Regions from separate parts of the Homo sapiens genome. Here region 2 is linked to region 1. A link means that fine-mapping ties the variant in region 1 to the expression of a gene that starts in the linked region. Tissue or cell type: cerebellar hemisphere. Region 1 holds a variant in brackets; the other region holds the start of a gene. All regions are shown on one strand. Distances are from middle to middle.

Evidence for each region. PIP is the estimated chance that this variant, and not a neighbour inherited with it, causes the effect.
Region 2: it holds the start of GALNT10, and the variant in region 1 is fine-mapped to the expression of GALNT10 in cerebellar hemisphere (GTEx, PIP above 0.99). The same link has a PIP of 0.9 or more in cerebellum.

The regions. Positions count from the first base shown.
Region 1 is chr5:154,282,498-154,292,543 of GRCh38, forward strand. All of the region lies in intron 1 of GALNT10 (polypeptide N-acetylgalactosaminyltransferase 10), which reads left to right. Among named protein-coding and RNA genes, the nearest start is that of MIR1294, 60 kb to the right of the region's middle. RefSeq lists a silencer at 3,192-3,486. The variant A/G (reference allele first, on the strand shown) is at 5,730.
Region 2 is chr5:154,185,215-154,195,260 of GRCh38, forward strand. It overlaps GALNT10 (polypeptide N-acetylgalactosaminyltransferase 10), which reads left to right and starts at 5,519. Exons shown (of 12, transcript NM_198321.4): 1 at 5,519-5,811. The coding sequence starts at 5,653. LOC124901118 (a long non-coding RNA gene) reads right to left here and starts at 4,865. Exons shown (of 2, transcript XR_007059010.1): 1 at 4,782-4,865. RefSeq lists an enhancer at 3,929-4,894 and silencers at 5,115-5,204, 5,295-5,394, 5,405-5,514, 5,605-5,684, 5,755-5,814.

The DNA of each region.
Region 1 (10,046 bases):
AGAACAGCTCCTAGGGGATATACAGCAATTTCTGCCACAAGCCTTAGTTAGGAATCCAGAAAGGAAACCATTTGAAAATGAAAGAAGGAAGAAGGTGGAAGAGTTCAAAGCCTGTTGCATCTTTTTAAAAATTATTTTAGGATCAGGTGAGCCAGCTCTCTTTTGAGCTTTGTAGCCCATTAAGTTGACCTGAAGCCATTTAGTCATAGGATAAAGTCAATCCTCAGAACCCTTTTATGGTATTAAATCTTTGGACTATATTAGACATGTCTAATCCTTGAGTGACCTTTCCTTCATCTGGAAAAGATAAAAGATGTCTCCACTCATTCATTCATTATTCATTCATTCAACAGAAATTGATGTCTTCTCATAGAGCTCACAATTTGGGGAGAGATAGACAATATTCAAATGATCATCCAAATGAATGTGAAGTCACAAAGGAGCAGTGAGGATGCTGTAAGGTCCCATATCAGGGGCAGTGATCTAGCCAGAGGGGTTAGGGAAGCTTGCCTGAGGGTTTAGATGATTCCTGTGGGAGCATCTGCATTCATAGCAGTTTGCTGTGGTCTGGGAAGACTGTCCTTTGTGCTCTCTTGTGGTTGCACCTCACACATCCTGCCTGGGACACCATATATCTAAGAAATCGTTATATAAGAACAAGAGAGGCTGGGCATGATGGCTCACGCCTGTAATCTCAGCACTTTGGGAGTCCCAGGTGGGACGATCACCTAAGGCCAGGAGGTTGAGACCAACCTGGGCAACATAATAAGACCTCGTCTGTAAAAAAAAAAAAAAAAAAAAAAGCCAGGTGTGGTGGTGCATGTACCTGTAGTCTTAGTTTCTTGGGAGGCTGAGGCAGGAGGATTGCTTGAGCCCAGGAGGTCAAGGCTGGAGCTGCAGTGAGCTATCATCATGCTACTGCAAGCCAGCCTGGGCAGCAGAGCAAGATCCTATCTCTTAAAAAAAATAAATAAATAAAAACAAGAATACCAGAGTGACAGAGTGAGAGTGAGGTGGGATAGGTAAGGGGCTGGGTGCTGCCCAGGAGATTCAGAGCCTTTTGTGGCCTCCACCCTAAGAGAAACAAAGAAGAAGAGTTCAGAGAGTTCTCAGTTTCCAAGATGGGAGATGGAGGAGGCCAACATCATTGTCCAGGCAGAGACTTTCCTCCTGGGCCAGGAAGGAGTCCAAAGAGGAGGGGACTACCATCAGTCACATGTTGCTTCCCCATGCCCCTACCCCTCTCCCCCTCTTGGGGGACCTTTGCAAGCAGTGAGCAGCCAGCCAGCCCAAAGAGCCAAGATTGTGGAAATCAACCAGTGGGTCATTGTCTACCAGGTGTACTTGGAAATTCACTCTTCCAGCTTAAGGCAGCTGTGGCAGATGGGTCCTGTCCCCTGACCAATGCCAGCTGATGGGTAAGCGCTGCTTGGAGCACAGTGTTGAGAAAGATTCTCAAAGTCTGGGATCCACAAGGAAGGATATTACAATAGGTTGGTGATGTCTGCTTTTACCCTGGTGCAACTGAGAGGAAGGAATGGGACATAAATATAAAAATGCTTTGTAAATTATAAAATACTACCAAATAGTAACTAATAATGGTAGCTAGCATTGCTAGTGCTTTCTAGATACCAAACACTGCTAAGAGCTATACTTGCTGCATCTCATTTAATCCTCATAATAACCTTTATGCTAGGTACTATTAATTTCCCCCATTTTACAGTTGGGAAACCAAGGCTTGTGAAAATAGCGTAACTTGCCCAAGATCACAGAGCTAATAAACAGAACTGTGGCACAAGCCTAGGCATTTCTGATGCCAAAGCAGATGGTCTTCTTCACTTTGGTCTGCTGTCTTCAGAATGTAGGGGATTATGATTATAATTATTACTATTATTAGAGCAAGTACTTTATTACTGCGTGGCTCAACCCTACTTACCCAGCTAGGAGATTAATAGGATGTGTTTGCAGTCATTTTTTAGTCTCTCTCTGAAAAGTAGGAACTTGCCTTCTGATGAGCTTTCCAGTTCCTTTTTTTCTTTTTACCCATCCACAGCTGCTGTGCAGAGCAATATTGCAGCCCTTGCTCCTGCCCAGCCCGTCAAGCCTCTAAGAAGAGCACTTTCTAGGGGCTTTCCTGTGATTGATCACACATCAGCTAGACTGAGATTTTCAAAACCTCTTGTGAATTGCCCTCTTGGTACAGAAGTATGATTCATCTCAGCACGTTTTCCATATTTGAGGGCTATGTTCCTGCAGCCTTTCTAGATACTGAGTTTGGGAAGGAATGGGCAGGTACATGTGGTAGGTGCTATTAGCTGTGATGATTACACTCATGTGGTGGTTGGCAGTTTGCAAAACGCTTTCATATCGATTTTCTCTCCAAGCCTCAGTTTTGTCATCTACAAAGTGGATATAATGACGATAATAATATAGTCAAGTCTAATCTCATGAAAGAGTTAGGCTATAATAAACCCACCACTTAAGGTGAAAATAACACAAAATCAGAATCACCCTTGACAATCGCTCATGGAATATGAAGACACACCACCTCTCAAAAGTCCAGTGTGGGCAGTTTTAAATCCAGCTTGAACACCAGTGATAACTGTTTCTTTGGTTGAAGTAATCACAGTGCCTTCTGAGGTAATGAAAATACTTATCTTCCTAGAGTAGGCTCCCCCAGCACAGAGCGCTCACACTTCCAGGGGCCAGAGAGAACTGGGGCCTCCAGGGACACTGTGAGGGCAAAGGCACACTCTGCATGAGCACGGGAGGCTCACCACCACCCTTGTAGGATTTCTCTCTTCTTTCTTGACTATGTGTCACTGAATTCTTGAAGGTGAAATAGACATAAAATCCTATCTCATTAGGTCTGATCTCCTGACTTGCTTTCTATGGACAGTATTGAAACTTAAAAGTAACATGTGATGACACAGACACCAGGCTAGGTGAGGGGAGAGCTGGGCTCAGGTCCCAGGTGGGTTTCACCTGCATCTGTGGGACTATTGATATCCAGCTCTTACAGATGAACTTCTCACCTGACTGTCCAAGTTCTCAGGCTCTATTTCTTGACTCAAACCCACAGGACCCTAGTAACCCTATTTTTAAAAAAAATCTGTGTGTGCCCACCCCTACTTCTGCCTTCCCAGCATAAGCTAACATCATCTCTGCCTGCACCACTGTGATAGCCTCCTTCCCAGCCTCCACCCCTCCTCTTGGCCTCCTAATCCCTTTTCCACTTGGCTACAAGAGAGCTTTCCAAATGCAACCTGATCTTATCACCTCCTTATAGAAAACACTTGTATTTCTAAATGCTCCTGGAGGAAAGACAGAATCCTCACCCCTGTCCACCTCTCATTCCTACCAGACTTTCCCTGCTTCTCTGTGCACCACACACACTGCTCTTCCAGGCCCTCCTATGATTCATGTTTGCTCAGCCACAGAATCTTTGCATATCTTTACTTTTCCCTCTGTCTGGAATGCTGTGTACTCCTCTTTCTACTGAGTTAACCTGTAATCCAATTTTCTCAAGAAAACCTTGCAGGCTGGATCAGATCCCCCCAGTCTGATCTGAAAGAAAGGGACTATCTTTGTACCATGTACCCCTCTTTTATGGCCTGCCACTGTAGCTTTTTTAATTTACCTGTAGTTTCGGATGAAAGTCTACATTTCCCCACCACCACACATACTTCTATAAGCTCTATGAGAGTAGGACCCCGTCCGTCTTCCTCACCAGTATATCCTCAGCACCTAGCACAAGGCTTGATTTGTGCTTGTGTTCATCATACACTTAAGTTGATGGACAGATGGACAGACAGACAGATGGACAGATGGATTGATAGGTAAGAGACTCAGATGAACATTATCAAATTATTGATCAGAGTCGATTTGTTTTTTTTTTTTTTTCCCAGTGATAAAACATTTGGGCACTTATCCTGAAGAAAGTGTTGAAATTGTTCTTTTAGAATGGAAGGGAAAAGCTACTGAAGGTTCTATTTGCCCTTTAGATAACAGACATTCCAAAGTATCTTGGCTTTTTTTTCTCCCTGCTGTTTAAAAAATCTTTTAATGAGCTTTCATGCCTTACGTAGCAAATGACCTTTTCTAGAGCCACCTACACCAAACAAAGGAATTGGAGGGTTGATATGGTTCTGCCCTTGGAAACACAGGATCAGCCCTTTGAAACAATGGCTCCTATCTGTGAGTGACCTTCCCCTCTTAGAGAAGGGCCAGATTTCAGATTTCAGCATCCTGGTGTTGAGACAATGGAGTTACTGGAGTGGGGACAACAGACACAGCCCCATTGCTGATTGGAACAGCAGGACTTGCCTGACGTGGGCCCAGCAGACATAGACTCGTGGTTGCTGGGTTGTAATGCCTCCTTCCATTCATAAATAGTGCCATTCAGGTTTGATTGTTTTCTCATACAGCTTGGTCCTGGTTATAGTGAAAGTTAAGTTTTCTCAAAACAGCAGCCTACTGAATAGGTGCTAGGGTTAGGTCAGCCTCACTTAAGTCTGACTGTGGGGTACCAGAATGAATGATCCTCAGCCTATGAAAAGGGGACATTTTCTCTGAATGAAAACAAAATCATCTTTCTCCTTGCATTTCTCATGGGAGGAGGAGGATTCTGAGATTAATTGAAAGTGGAAAGGTAGTAACGTATTTTATTCTTGGAGTTCTACTTCAGCCTGTTCCTTGCTCAAAGGCTTACTGTGGCTGCCCACCTGCCAAGCAGCTCAAATGTAAGGCCCTCCAATTCTGGTCCAGACTTCCTTCCTGGTCTTATTGCTCGTGACTCACTTTTGCATCCTGCTCACTCCAGCCAAATCAGGCTCCTTGCCCTTAAGTAAATATGCCCTTCACTTTCTAACTCGCATTCTTTCCACATACTTTCCCTCTAGCTGGATTCCACCCCCAACCCCCACCCCTCAACTGCTACCAGTTAAAATCCTACCCCTTCTCTCAGGTTCCTGTCAAAGACTCTGCTTCTGCAGGAATTCTTCCCCGATCGTCCCAGGTAGAATTTAATTTTTGGCTTTTGTAAATATCTATCGAATTTATCTGTACAGCTTTCAAGGCACTATGTTATAGGCTTGTATGTGTGTATGTGTGTTTTCCTTCCTTAAATACTTGTCTCATAGCTGTTTGTGGAGGCCATGGACTACCTTGTTCATCTTTGTCTCTCCCAGAGGTCTTTGGCCATAGTAGGCCCTCAATAATCATTGTTTGGATGAATGAATTAATAAAAACAATCCAGCTTATGTCCTCAAAACTCATGAAGAAAGTACATTTATCTAATTGTCCAAACTCCCTTGTTTAAACTTTATATGCTTTGAGCTAAATTAAGCCCTACCTGGTCCTCTTTGAAGGTAATCTTGAAGAAATTGCTTTGCTGTGTGTGTGTGTGTGTGTGTGTGAGAGAGAGAGAGAGAGTGTGCATGTGTGTGCATGTGTGTGTGTGTGAGAGAGAGAGAGAGAGAAGTTTATTAATCTACTTGGTAGATAAACAGATGTTTGAAATGATATAGTTATTTAAACCTCAAAGCAAAATCATTTCATTGCCTTTGTAGGGTTCTTTGAGAGGAAGGTGGAGGGGAGCCATCCTAAAATTTGCAGCAGAGCCTGGTCTCTAACACAGCCTCAGACTGTGGATGAAGCAGATGACCTGCTCAGCTTTCCTTCCAACATTGCTGTTTGAGCGCATACAGCCCTTTCCTTGTTTTGAAGAC[A/G]CTAGCCAGCTCAGCCAGAGATGCTCTTTGCCAAGTCTGCAGTCTTGGGATTAGAGTATGCACTTTAACAAATCTTCCTTCTTGAGCAGAATGTAGTTGGCTTGCTTCACCACCATTCTTTCCTACCTCCAAAGGCTGCCAGGCCTGCTAAATAGTGATTAAACAAAGATTAAAATTCCATTTGTGTGTGTGTGTGTGTGTGTGTGTGTGTGTGTGTTTGAACACTAATCGATTCTTTTAGTGGAATGTTAAGTAAAAGCATGCAGATACCAGAAGCAGTTATTTAGAGCAGCCAGTCAAAATCCATTGCCAATTTATTATTTAATGTGATTTCCACATTGATTCTGCCAGTCTCCTCCACACACTCTCCCTCACTTCTTGCCATGTTCCTTCCTAACCCCTTTGCTTCCTGTAGCAGAAGGACATCTGGAAACCAAGAGAAAGCAAAGTAGCAAAAGATGGTTGTTGAAGGAAAATAATTACAGCTTTTGTAGACAAATCTTTGAGCTTACAGAATTAAAGAAACTTAAAATTACCTCTGGATTGAAAAATCCAGACGTGATCTTTTACATAATATTAAGTGATTGCTATTGCATAATTGCTGTCTTTTGAGAAGCAATGTTCCTGCCTTTTCTGTTGTTAATGGTCTTGTGGCATTTGTTTCTATTGTAGAATGCCACTATTAACTAAGACTTTTTTCTTTCCTTGAAGAACACTGTGTTTCGATGTGGGCATATGACATCCTGTTAATGAGGAAATTCTAAATCCTGTTATCAGCAAGAGCCAGTTGAATTGAATCAGGTGGTAGATAGGTTGCCTCTGCAGGACCCACAGTTTTCCTTATTAGTTTCCTGTTCGCTCTCCTATTCCTCCAAACATGGTTATCACAAACACTGGAACATACCGTGTTTTCATAAACTTTCCCTAAAAATAATGTATTCATAGTTGCTCACCTTTACTAGGAGAGGACCTAACTTTGTCCCAGACACTGGGACACTTTGTCCCGGATTAGCTCAGTTAATCCTCCCAACAGATACTCTTATTCTGTTAGTTTTCTCTATTTATCAGTCAGGGAAATTGGGCTCCACCTGCCCAGGAAGTAAAACCTAGGTTTTCCTAACTCTGGAACCAGAATGTTCCAAGTCATTAAACTAGACTACCTTTCCCATTGATGAGCATTCATTCATTCATTCAGCTGGTATTTTTCAAGGGCCTAAGATTAGTCAGGTATTGGCCTAGGAAAGTGCAGTGGTGTAATGCCCCTGCCTTCAAGAAGCTTACAGTCTATTCCAGGGAGAGAACTGCAAGCTCTGGTTTGGTCCTTGGGGCTGACAAGCTGTAGGATTTAGGGCAAGTCCATTCTACTCTGTTAGCCTCAGATTTCGTATCTGTAAAATGAGGCAGCTAGATTTAGACCAAAGGTCTTCCAACTTTATTGTGAATTAGAATCACATGGAGAATGTGTTTTCTAAAAAAGGTATCTTCCTGGGCTCCTATCTGTAGACATTTTTACTTAGTAGGTTCAGGGTGTGAGTCCAGGAATTTGCATCTATAATAAGGGCCCAGGTTCTCCAAGAACCACCTTTTGAAAGAGACTGATCTTTCTGTAAACCTCATTAGGCCTACACAGTATCTGTGCTGTCAAACCTGAATCCCTGGTGCCTGACACACTGCTTTGTACAGAGTAGGTGTCAGTAAACATTTGGTGATAGTTTAGATGATCTGGGGTTTCTTAATCTGCACTATCTCTAGAAATTCCATGGATTGTCCTCAGAGGCTCCTAAACCACCTGAAATTGACCACAATTTCCATTAAGGTTTTTGGATAGGATTCTTAGGGCCCTTCAGGCTCCATGTACTCTGTAATTTTTTTTTTTTTTTTTTGAGACGGAGTCTCACTCTGTTGCCCAGGCTGGAGTGCAGTTGCACAATCGCGGCTCACCACAACCTCTGCTTCCTGAGTTCAAGTGATTCTACTGCCTCAGCCTCCCAAATAGCTGGGATTATAGGTGTGTGCCATGACACTCAGCTAATTTTTTTTTTTTTTTTTTTTTTTTTGTATTTTTAGTAGAGACACGGTTTCACCATGTTGGCCAGGCTGGTCTCAAACTGACCTCAAGTGATCCGCCCACCTCAGCCTTCCAAAGTATTGGGATTACAGGCGTAAGCCACCACACCTGACCAACTCTATAATTTTAAGACTGAAACTAGTTTTCCACCCTACTGAAGGCCCAGACCTATAACTGGGATACTTTTTAACCTATACAATAAAATTTGAGTTTTATATCTACATGATTTGGTGAGATGTCAATTTACAGTAGATTCTTAAAATCCTAAAGGAGTCAGTGTCCTCAATCCATGTGTAAATTAGGAGAGCGCTCAGGCTATACTGTTTGTGATTGTCTCCGTTCATCTGAAAGTACCTTTGGGCAGGTAGTGCTGTCTCCATTTTCCAGGTGGGAAAATTGAGGTACCTGTGACTCCTGTAGCTCATGCAAGGTCACACTCAAGGGTTCTTTCCCACTAAAAACTAACCTGGGAGTCAAAGGACATGGTTTTTATCCTCTTGCCTGCTGTGAGGCCTTGGTTGGGTAGCTTGGCTTGTTTGGACTTCAGTTCCTTTATCTGTAAGATGAGCGGAGGTGTACTAATTGTCTCTGAGCAGCTATTTAGCTCAGATGGCTGAGGACTCTAGCAGCTGCGTGCTTAGACATGTAGAACTCCCTGTGTCAGCAGGCTCCAAAGTCCTCCTGGTTTAGGGAAGGTATAAGGACCAATGAGACCTAAAACAGCATAGTTCATCTCTGCAGACCCTGGGAGGGAGGGATAGAGGGAGCAGTGTGCATCATAAGGCAAAGGCAGTGGAGTTAGGTATGAAACTCCCAGGATTTTGGAGCCTTAATTCTCAATGCCATCAGTTCAGCAATCCAGTGTTTCATTTTGAGAACATGATTCTAGGGGTTTACTTCTGTGAGGTCAAAACAGTGAGATTTATCCCTGTACCCCATTCCCAGTAGCACTGGAAGACTTTCACAAGCTTGTAGAGGAAATAGTATCCTTCATGGAATCTTAGACTCTTGAAGGGCCCTTTAAAGGTTGCCTAACCCTTGCTACTCAAAGTGTCTTTTTTGGCCCAGCAGCGTCAGCATCACCTGGGTTCTTGTTAGAAATGCAGAATCTCAGGCCCCGCCCTAGACCTACTGTGCCAGAATCAGCATTAACAAGATCCATGCATGATTCTCCTGCACATTAAAATTTGAGAAGCACTAGTCCCAACCCTGCACTTGATTCTTCTCCTTCACATCCTGATGAACACTCAATCTTTCTATTCCTGGCCACTTCTAATATCTTCTTCCAAATGGTTTTATTTCATCCTAGCAGCGACCCAACTTTTGGAATTTCTTCTCTGTCTGAGGCCCCTCAATCATTCAGTAACATCTACCATTGGCCCTTAGTGTAGCCTTAGGACTTCATGGAACAAAATAACTTCTCCCATGTCCTCCAGGGCTTCTTATCTCCTAGTCCTCATAGTTTCTAATCTTTCCCAACCAGGATACATTCCTGAATATCCCAGCATGTTTCAAGCTCACCAGGGCCAGGCAGGTAACAAAAATGAGATATGGGAGGCAGGTGAAATGCAATAAGGAATGGTAGGGACTGTGGCAAACTGGGGAGACGTGCCCCATCCACACAGCCCAGCTGATGAGCTGAGGGAAGTCAGCCCAGTACTGGCATGTCTTTTAGGTTTTCAAGAGAAGCCAAAAATCTTGATAAAACAATATGAAATCTCCCCATTTTCACACTAGAATTAAGAAAACCAAACCAAAACGAAAAGCACCTTGAAAGCCACCAGGTTGTTTGCCAGTGACCACATTTGGCCCACGGGCCTCAGGGTTTTGCAGCCTTCTATGATAATTATCTGCTCAACTTGATGTGACAACACAGATCAGGTAGGATTATCATCTGCTTCATTGTAGACCAGCAGTTCTCAAACCTCAGCGTGTATCAGAATCTCTTCGAGAGCTTGCTAAAACACGGATTGCTGGGCCCCATCCCCAGAGCTTCTGCTTCTAGAGGTCTAGGGTAAGACCCTGGGAATTTGCATTTCTGGCAAGTTCCCAGGTGGCACCCATCCTGTCCTCTTCAGATACAACACTTTGAACACCATGGCTTTAGTTTTGTGCCTTCCATTAAAAGATCCTCAGTTTGCAGAGCCTCTAGTCCCACCAGGGCTGAAGTAATCAACCAAAGTTTCCAATCTGTGGGCAGCAGAAGAGGAAAAAGAGATTGGGAGGGAGGGCTGGAGAAAGGAGAGCTA
Region 2 (10,046 bases), 97 kb before region 1:
CAATAATAAACAAGTAAATAAACACATAAATGAGACTATGGCAAAGAGGGATATGTATGCACTGTGAAGGAAACATGGCAGGATGTAAAGTATGGGAGAGAGTGCCTGGGTAGTTAAGGAAGGTCTCTGTAAAGAGGTGATATGTAGTCTGGGACCTGAAGGATGAAAGGGAGCTAACAGTGGAGGAAGATCTGGGGAAACAGCTGGCAGAGACAAGAGCTAATGCAAAGGCCTTGGGGCTGGCATGGGCAGAGGGCCTTCAAGGACCAGGAAGAAGGAGAGTGTGGCTGCTTTGGAGCGAATGAGGAGAGTAACAGGAGATGAGAGCAGAGAGGCACAGGCCAGAGCAGAAGGTTTTGCCTGACAGCTGAAATTCTGTTCATCCCTCTCAACGCTCCTGTGTTGTTGAGCTTTTATTTCACCCAGCTACTAGTGCTTACATTCGACCAGGGTCTGCACGGTAAGCCCTTTATGCACATTATCTTATTTAACGCCCACAATAGGCCTAGAGGGCTCAGTCTGAAAGTAACATTTTTTGTTCAATTTCAGTCAATGACCAGATCAGTTCTCCCAGGAAACCAGCCAGAGCTAACAGACTGCCCATGTCTCAAATGGTATTGTCTCAGCGAGCGGAATAAAGCCCCAGAAGCCCACCCCCTGCCTGGTGCATCCCATATTGTACAAAGTGATCAAAGAGTCCCTGGATTAAAGCTGGGTTCTTGGGCTAGAGTCCTCATTGGGGCCAGACTGGGCTGGCATGCAGCTTTGATCAACAAGTGACATGAGAAAAAGCTCAAATCCAATTTTGTGCAGAATCTTCTAAGGAGCTAGAAGAGGGGATGGGAAGGAGAGAGATGCTGAGTATCTTCCCTCCTGTACTTGATCTTCACTGCTATACAGTACTTCACTCAACAGGGGCTTATTGAACACCTACTGTGTGCCAGACCCAGGAAAGGCCACAGCTTAGTTTGTGTGGCTGGGTGGGAATATGAGTTGAAATCCACACACCTTGGCTCTGTTCTGGCTGCTTTAGCACAAGGAGAGGGGGGATCCTTTCTGTAAGTTCTTCTGCCTGGAAGGAGCACCAGTTTTCTGATTCACAATGAAGGGAAATACAATTGTGCATGGCTTAGTGATGGGGATACGTTCTGTGAAATGTGTCAATAGGTGATTTCTCATAGAGAACATCATAAAGCATACTTGCACAAACTTTGATAGGATAGCCTAATACACATCTAGGCGACACGGTATAGCCTATTGCTCCTAGGTTACAAACCTGTACAGCATGTTTCTGTACTGAATACTGTAGGCAATTGTAACACAATGGTATTTGTGTATTTCAGCATATCTAAACATAGAAAAGGTATAGTAAAAATAGAGTATTATAGTCTTATGGGAACACCATTGGTATATACAGTTCATTGTTGACTGAAATGTTGTTGAACAGTACGTGACTTTATGTGCTGACAGAGGCACGGAACACCATAGAAGGCAAATACAAAGTTCCTGTCTGTTTGGAACTCACATTCTAGACAGGGAGACCAAAAATGATACCTGCTTTGGAGAAAAATCAAGCAAATGGAGATGGTGGTGGTGCTAGTTGATATCTTAGATCAGCTGGTCAGGGAAGCTCTCTCTGAGGCAGGACCCCTGATCTGGTTCCTGAGAGAAGGCGGAGAGAGAACCATGCAGAGGGGTAGAGGAAGAGATTTCTAGACAAGGGCACAGTAAATTTGCAAAGGCCCTGAGGGAATCATCAATTTGGTATACATTTGAGGAACATAGCAAGACCAGTGTAACTAGAAGAGAAGGAAAGAAGGCAAAAATTAGAAGTTGGGTCAAATAATGTAAGGCCTTATGGGCTGTGGTAAGGATTCTCATAGATTGTAGGTTGTTTTCTGTTTATTTGTTTTGAGAGACTTGGTCTTGCTTTGTTACCCAGGCTGGAGTGCAATTCTGTGATCATAGCTCACTGCAGCCTGAACTCCTGGGCTCAATCCTCTCACCTCAGCCTCCAGAGTAGACAGGACTACAGACACATGCCACCATGCCTGGCTTCATAGACATATTCTAACATGAAGAGAAGCCATAGGCAAGTCCCAGCAGCAGAGTTAGCCTTGTGTGTGTAAAAAGAACATTCTAGCTGCTCTGTTACCAGCACTGTGCTCAGTGCTATAGTGGCACCTAAAAGTTTTTTGCAACATTATTTAATTACATAAATACTGTGTATCCACTGCAGTATAGAAGACATAGGGCTATTCATAGCAACATTATTCACAGTAGCCAAAAGGTAGAAAGAACCCAAATGTCCATCTACTGATGAATGAATAAACAAAATGTGGCATACATACAATGGAATAGTATTCAATCTTGAAAACAGGAATGGAATTTGGCTGAGCGTAGTGGCTCACACCTGTAATACCAGCACTTTGGGAGGCCAAGGTGGGAGGATCATTTGAGGCCAGGAGTTTGAGACCAGCCTGGGAAACATAGCTAGACCCGGTCTCCACAAAAGATTTTTAAAAAATCAGCTGGGTGTGGTGGCATGGGCCTGTAGTTCTAGCTACTTAGGAGGCTGAGGTGGGAGGGTGGCTTGAGCCCAGGAGTTTGAGGCTACAACCAGCTATAATCCTATGACTGCACCAGTGACTGCACCACTGCACACCTGCCTGGGCAACATAATAAGACACTGTCAAAAAAAAAAAAAAAAAAGGAATGAAACTCAGATACATGTTACAACATGGGTGAATCTAAAAAATATTATGAGTGAAATAAACTGGAAACAAAAGAACTAATATGATATGATTCCACTTACATGAGGTACCTAGAATAGTCAAATTCAAAAAGGATAAAGTAGAATGGTGGGTAGTTGCCAGCAGTTGTGGGGAGAGGGTAATAGGGAGTTAGTGTTTAATGGGTACAGAGTTTCAGTTGGGTTGATGACCAGTTCTGGAGATAGATAGCCGTGATGGCTGCAGAACAATGTGCATTTACATAATGCCGCTGAATTGTACACTTTAAAATAGTTCAAATGATCAGTTTTACAAACGTTTATCACAAAAAAATGTGTTTAAAAAAGACATAGAGTTAGGAGCTAGAAATAGAAAAATGGCCATTCTAGGCAGAGGTAACAACAGGTGCAAAGGTACTGAGGCAGGACTGTGCCTGCCTGAGGGATGCTCTGAGGAACAACAAGGAAGCCAATGTCACTGGGGCACAATAAGGACAGTAAGGAGTGAGAGCTGATCACATATGGGCTTGTAGGGTCCTGTACTTTCTTAGGAACCTAATGAGAGGTGGGAAGCCACTACAGGGATTTGAGCAGAGGGGCGATACAATCTAACCTTGGATAAAACAAGATCATTCTGGCTGCCACATTCTTTTATTTATTTAATTAATTAATTAATTTATTTATTTATTTATTTTTTTGAGATAGAGTCTCGCTCTGTTGCCAGGCTGGAGTGCAGTGGCACGATCTCGGCTCACTGCAACCTCTGCTTCCTGGGTTCAAGCGATTCTCCTGACTCAGCCTCCCAAGTAGCTGGGATTACAGGTGCCCGCCACCACGCCCAGCTAATTTTTGTATTTTTAGTAGAGACAGGGTTTCGCCATGTTGGCCAGGATGGTCTCGATCTCTTGACCTCGTGATCTGCCCGCCTTGGCCTCCCAAAGTGCTGGGATTACATGCATTTTTAAATCTGACTCTCATTCGCCAATGGGTATAAGAAAAGCATGTACCTCACAGGGTAACTGTGAGCATTTAAAGAGGTAATGCATCTCAAGGGCTGCCTGACATAGAGTAAGCACTCAATAAAAGGTAAGCATTATTGTGATGGAAATCTAAAGAAAGAAAACAGTTCCCTGAGGAGGAGTTTTAGAAGGCTTCGTGGAGGAGGTGGCAGTTTAACTAGACACGGAAGGATGAACAAGATTTCCACCGACCTAGAGAAGGGGGTTTTATGGGTAGAAGGAGCTGCGTGGTCAACAGCACAAGAAGGAAAACACAAAGCCTGCAACAGGCTAAGCGAAGCTCAGGGCAGGGCAGGGCAGGGCACGGCAGGAGACAGAACGTTTGATCAGCCCTAGCAGGTCATAGGAGAGGAGCATGATGGACTCTAGAGCCGAGGTGATGGAAGCCTTGAAGGTTTTGCTGCAGAAATCAAGAACTGAGCTGTGATGTCAGAAAACTGAATCCCCATCGCTCAGCCTGGAGCTGGAAGAACTTGGAGGCAAGAGTTGCCAGAACGCTGGTCAAGGACTAGTGGCAGCTAGGCACGAAGGTCAGCGGCTGAGCTAGAGAAGCAGAGAATCAAGAGGACGAATGTGGGGGTGGCAGAGAGTAAGGTAGCCAAGGGGGTGCTCCGTTCCACCGCATCAGGGAGGAGGCAGCTAAGTGACCAGCGTCGAGCGCCCCGAGGAGGAGCCGCTGGCTGGCATCACCGTCGGAGTCCGGCTCCACGGCCCTCCGCATCGCCCAGAAGCCCGACTCCTCTGTCAAAGCCCTCGCCACAGTTACAGACACATTGCCTGGTCTAGTGAAATTACGTGTTTCATGTTTCAGCTCCCAGACGTCAGGGCTCAGGTCTGTTTTCATTTCATCCCAGAGCCTGGCACAGTGTTTGGCACATAGTGGCGCTCGCCAACGGTTTGCTGAGAGCTTTCCGGGAAGGGCTCAGTGCGCTTAGGATCCAAAAGCACGCGTGAGAATGCAGGGCATTCTAACTCCAAGGGGGTTGGACTTGCGTGAGGAAAGGTGCTGCAGAGAGGCTACCGTCACTTACCCACCCGCCGGTTTGCAGGATCTACAGACGGGCGGCGGCCGGGCACAGCTCCCTACAGTTTGCAGAGGGCGTTCACACCTAACGCCAGGGCCCCCCTAGAGGAAGAAAACCAGGGCCCGCCCGCGGAACAGTGAGCGTGCAGCACGGCTGTGGCCCCGTTTCATGGCCGGGAACACCGAGTCGCCGGGGTCAAAGTAGGTCCGCAGGTCCTGGGGGCCGAGCCTAGGTGGGCTGGAAGTGACAGCCCCGGGGGCTCCAGGCTCAGAACGCCCGGCGGGGCCCCAGCACTATTTGCATATCCCCAGGGAGGCAGCAAAGGTTCGGCTGCAGTCCCGGGCGGAGGTTGCCGGGCGGGGCGGCAGGGTACCCGGGCGAGCGGACATGCACCCCACCCAGCGGTGCCCAGCCCGCACCAGTTAGCGCCCAACTCGCCAACTCCGGGACTTTCGCAAAGCTCCAGAGGGCGGGGGAGCCGCCGAGGAGTGGGACGGACCATCGCGGCTCGAGAGGGGGGAAGCGCTCCGGCCCGGCATCCTGCAGCGCCCGGGCGGGCCGAGACGCTCCGTGAGAGGGCCGAGCCTGCAGCGCAGAGACTCGGCGGTCGACGCGGGGGCAGGCGGCGCGGGGCGGGCGGCTCGGCGGGGCCCGGGGGCGGTGGCGGCGGCGACGACCCCCTCGTGGCGGCGGCGTGGTGGCGGCGCCCAGCTCCCCGGCCGGCGAGCGGCGGAAGTGCCGCGGAGTTGGAGCGGGGCCGGCGCCGCAGCCGCTTCTGCTGGCTGAGCTGCTGCCGCCGCCGGGCGGACGGGCGGACGCGCGGAGCTGGGGGCGGCGCGGCGGGGCCGGCGGGGCGCGGCGGGGCTGACCGGCCCCGATGAGGCGGAAGGAGAAGCGGCTCCTGCAGGCGGTGGCGCTGGTGCTGGCGGCCCTGGTCCTCCTGCCCAACGTGGGGCTTTGGGCGCTGTACCGCGAGCGGCAGCCCGACGGCACCCCTGGGGGATCGGGGGCGGCGGTGGCGCCGGCGGCGGGACAGGTGAGTCCCCCCGTTGCTACAGGCCGGGAACACCCCCTTCCCGAATTCACTTTTAGCCTGTGGTTCCTTCCTCCACCTTCTGCTGTCTGCCTCCTCAGAGTCAGCTCCGAGACTCTTCAGCTCTTCCCATTTTCCGGATGGGAAAATTAAGTCCTGTCGGGACTTGTCCAGGGTCCCACGCCAGTCAGAGACTGAGTCCGAACTAGCACTCAGGACGCTATTTCTCACCACATGTTACCACCTTCCTTTCTGTCCCCGTCTGGTATTCCTTGACGTCTTCCAGCGGATCTCTTTTGAAGGATCCTATCTGCATCCCTGTATCCCAGGATGACTCCTGCCTTGTGCCAATAGGAATGAAGATTCTGGTTCTTCTATTTGGTGTCCAGGTCCTCTCTGCTTCCCTCCTCCCACCCCCCCCCCCCCACAACCCCTACCTGCTGATCCCAGTGTTCTTTGCTCAGGTCAGCCCTTTTCCTGATTTCTCATCTGCCCAACGAGACACCCGGGCCTTCCTCCTCTCCCCATTTATTCAACACCCCCGCCCCAACTCTAGCCTTTTCCTTTCTCAGATCCTGTGGATTCCTTGCAGAATGTAAAGATCATGCTCCCTTTAAAGCTTCAAGCCCCTGGGGGTGGAGAAGGGGGTAAGCTCCTGGTCCTTGAGGGACCTGCTGCCTTTGACCTTATGGGAGTCCAGAGGTGGGGCTCTGGTGGGGGGACCCCCAAAATGTCCCAGAGGCTATTGGTGCCCAGTGTCCTGAGGATGGAACACCAGAAGCCTTCCCTATCTCTTCTGAACTTGTCTAGTCTGGTTAGTTGTAGTGTTTATTGCAGCCAAAACTGGGATCGGAATGGTTTCTGCCTCCTTTGAACTTACCCACGTATGTTTGTGTGTATGTGTGCGTGCACGCATTTAGACTAGCAGCTCCCTCATAGCAGAAGCTCTGTCACATCACTCCCACCCTCCCAGGAGGTGCTAGTGAGTGTATTGCTTAGACTGTTTCATATAGTGGAACATTTCAGGCTTTCTTACGGGATTTCTCTGGTCCCATGAGAAGTGGATAATTTGTGTATCAGGGTCAGACTTGACTGACTGTTGGCTGGCCTCGACGAAAGAGGCTGGCTTTTCTGAGATTGATGGTTTTCCTTATTCTTCCCAGTATCAGGCTGCTGTCTAGGCAGTCTGGCATCTGGAGCACAGAGGGCTCTTTGCTACAGAGCTGACCAATTTGAGCTCCGCCTGTAACTCTGTTAATTGCTGCAAAGCATCCCAGAGGGTCTCATTGATCTTTCTGGTAGAGCTTACTGTTTAGAAACTAAGGTTTCCATCTCTTTCCTAAACCCCTGGTTCAAACCCTGACAGCTAGCTTAGACCTCTCTCCCTGAAATTCTGTATCTGTATGGATTTTCCGTTCATGAAATCTCTTTCCTCTGTTCCTATTCAGTACCAGCATCAGAGTCAGGAGTTCCAGGGTTCTGACCTCAGCTCTACCACTAACTTACTGTGTGTGTCCTTGATCACCTTTCATCTCCTTTTCTGAGCCTTACTTTCTTGGTCTGTAAACCATGATTATTGGTCCAGTTCTAACATTCTGTGATACTATCAGTTAATCAATGAGGAATACAACGGTCCCTTCTTTTTTTCTGTCTTGAGTCCAGAGTTCCTTGTAGCATCCCTAGCTGTGGAGGCTCCATACTGGACACAGCTCCAGGTCAAGGGGGAGTGTCCTACCCTAGTGCAAACTCTCCTTTAGAATAGCTGTAGCCCATTCTAAAATAGTGCTTGACATTCTGCCTCTGCTTGGAGAAAGACCTCGTATTTCATTTGCAATAGATGCCAAAGACATCCTGATTTTCATTTCTGTAGACCCAGATGGGTAGAGAAGGTCAAGGTTAACTGCCAGTTTGGCCTGAGCTTTCAAAGTAAATTACTCACTTGTGCAAGAGGGTATTGATAGAGTAAGGCAGACTTTTGGGCAGGGAGAGAGAGGGGAGCAACAGCTGGGTGCTGCTCAGAGCCCCTAACTGAAATGGATAGACAGGCTCATCTGGGAAGATCTAGTTTTTGTTCATTTCTTTTTCTCTGGAATAGCATGAAGAGGAGGAGGAAGAAGTGGTGAAGGGGGTTTGGGGGTTTGGGGGGAATACCAACTGATTATTCTTGCTTTAAAGAAAATCTCTTTGCTTCATGGGAGCAGCAGAATGGAGCTGTTTCCCCAATGATAAGCTCTTCTAGGTGCTACAGGATTCAGCATTCATCTGCTGCCTTTCAAGAACGCCCTGCCAAATTTCCACACAGCCCCTTTTTGTTTCACTCTCCCACAGATGCAGAGCACTGGGCTTGGCCCCCAGTCCGTTGTTTGAATGTCAGCTGGCCTTGAGGAAAGAGGCTGACTTCTCAGAGTGATGGTGTTCCATCCCTCATCCCAGTGTACTGGAACATACATGTAACATGCCAGGCTGCTATCTGGGAAATCTGGCATCTTGAGCATACAGAGCTTTTTCAACAGGGCTGACCAGTTCTGAGCTCAGCCTGTCATTCTTGTAATTGTTGAGAATCATCTTTGAGCATCTCGTTGATCCTTCTGGTAGAAATAACTGCAGAGGCTCTGGAGGGAAGTCTGACAGGACTTTATCCAAATGAAAAATGTGTTCCATATGGGTTTGAAAGAAGATTCTTTGAGAGTAACATATCCACTACTTGAGTAGTCCTCTAACTCCTTGATTTCTCCACTGGATTAAAGAACGGAGTTTCAAATTTATAGTGTTTATCATCTGCTAGAATGAAAGTCTACATAACTCATGCCAGCTCATCCTGGGAGTACCTCTGGAGCTGGGTGGGATAGCTGATTTATAAAGGACACATAATGCTTCTAGGATTTCAGCAGTCATCTGGTCAGACAGTTGGCTTCTTGGGAAGCTGCAAAACCAAGCAAGAAATGCCAGCCTTGAAGACATCTTCCTTTTAATTTGTGGGTCCCTCTCATTCCAAGCCCCAATCTGTTTAACATCTTGGTTTAATTCAACAGTCTGTTTCATATTCCAGGTTTGGGACAGGTTATTAAAAGCTCAAGTTAGAAACTCAGTGCAGTCTCTCCTCATTTCTGAGCCATAATCTCTTGTTGAAAAATGACTTCACTGGATAAATAGCATATGTGGAATAGAAATTGGTGGAATAATGGAATACCGGTGACTTTAATTTTCAAGTATCAGGATTTCTTTCTCATTGTGTTAGAGCTGAACTTTATTCTTAGAACATCCAGAAATCAATGTTTTTTTCTCTTTTTTCAGTCTTCCTGGTGGCAGAAGCCTTGCCCATCAGAAAGTTAAGTATAGAAATGTAGCCTTGGAACGATTTCCTTAATTTTCCACAGAAGGGCTAGTATCCTTTAGCTTGCTAATCACTCCTCTGTCTGCATGCCCAGGTGAAATCTGATGCCACTAGGGAAGGGTTGTTGATTTGCCAGAACAAATCCGGCTCCCTACATTCTTTCTGTCATTCTTGGCTTGCTGTCTACCAAGGAGTCCAGCTGAGGAAGGCCTGGGAACAGAGACCTGGCTTTTAGTCCTTTCTCCTGCCCTAAACTCACTGTGTGTCCTCAGGAAAGAGGTTTAACCTCTCTGGGCCTTGGATTCCTCATCTGCTAAGTGAGGCTTAGATTCAGAAGGGAAAAGGCAAATGCATATTGTAACGATGCTTCCCCTCCCATGGCCAGGGCAGACATTGCTAATCAACCTTTTCATTACTAATACCAGACTTGGGCTCAGACTGTTTCTCAGCAGGGCTACTCAAGTAGAGTTAACGACATATGGAAACTCATTAGCAATGTAGGGAATAGATACTGTGTTAGGGCTTTTCCAACTCTTACATCCTGAGGTTCTGTGAGTATGCTTGGAAACACATCTGAATAGTGATAGTATATTTAAACAGGCCTCTGTATCTAACTTGTAATGAGGCCACAACTTAAGGGTATGTTCATATTTGAATGTCTTTTCTCAGGCTGTAGTCTAAGGATGTTCAGCCTTTGATCTGTTGGTTCCAGTGACACGGTAACAGATAACGGAATCAGGAATGAAAAGCAAAAGCCCATTTAAAAGATAACCATCTAGCTTGCTAATTGTACCTTGTCCACAGTCAGCTCTTACACAGAGATGGCATCAGGATCTCCTCACTGAATCAAAAGCACCTTGAGGCAAACCTGGCAGCTACAAGTAAGCCCCATGGCAGCTAAATG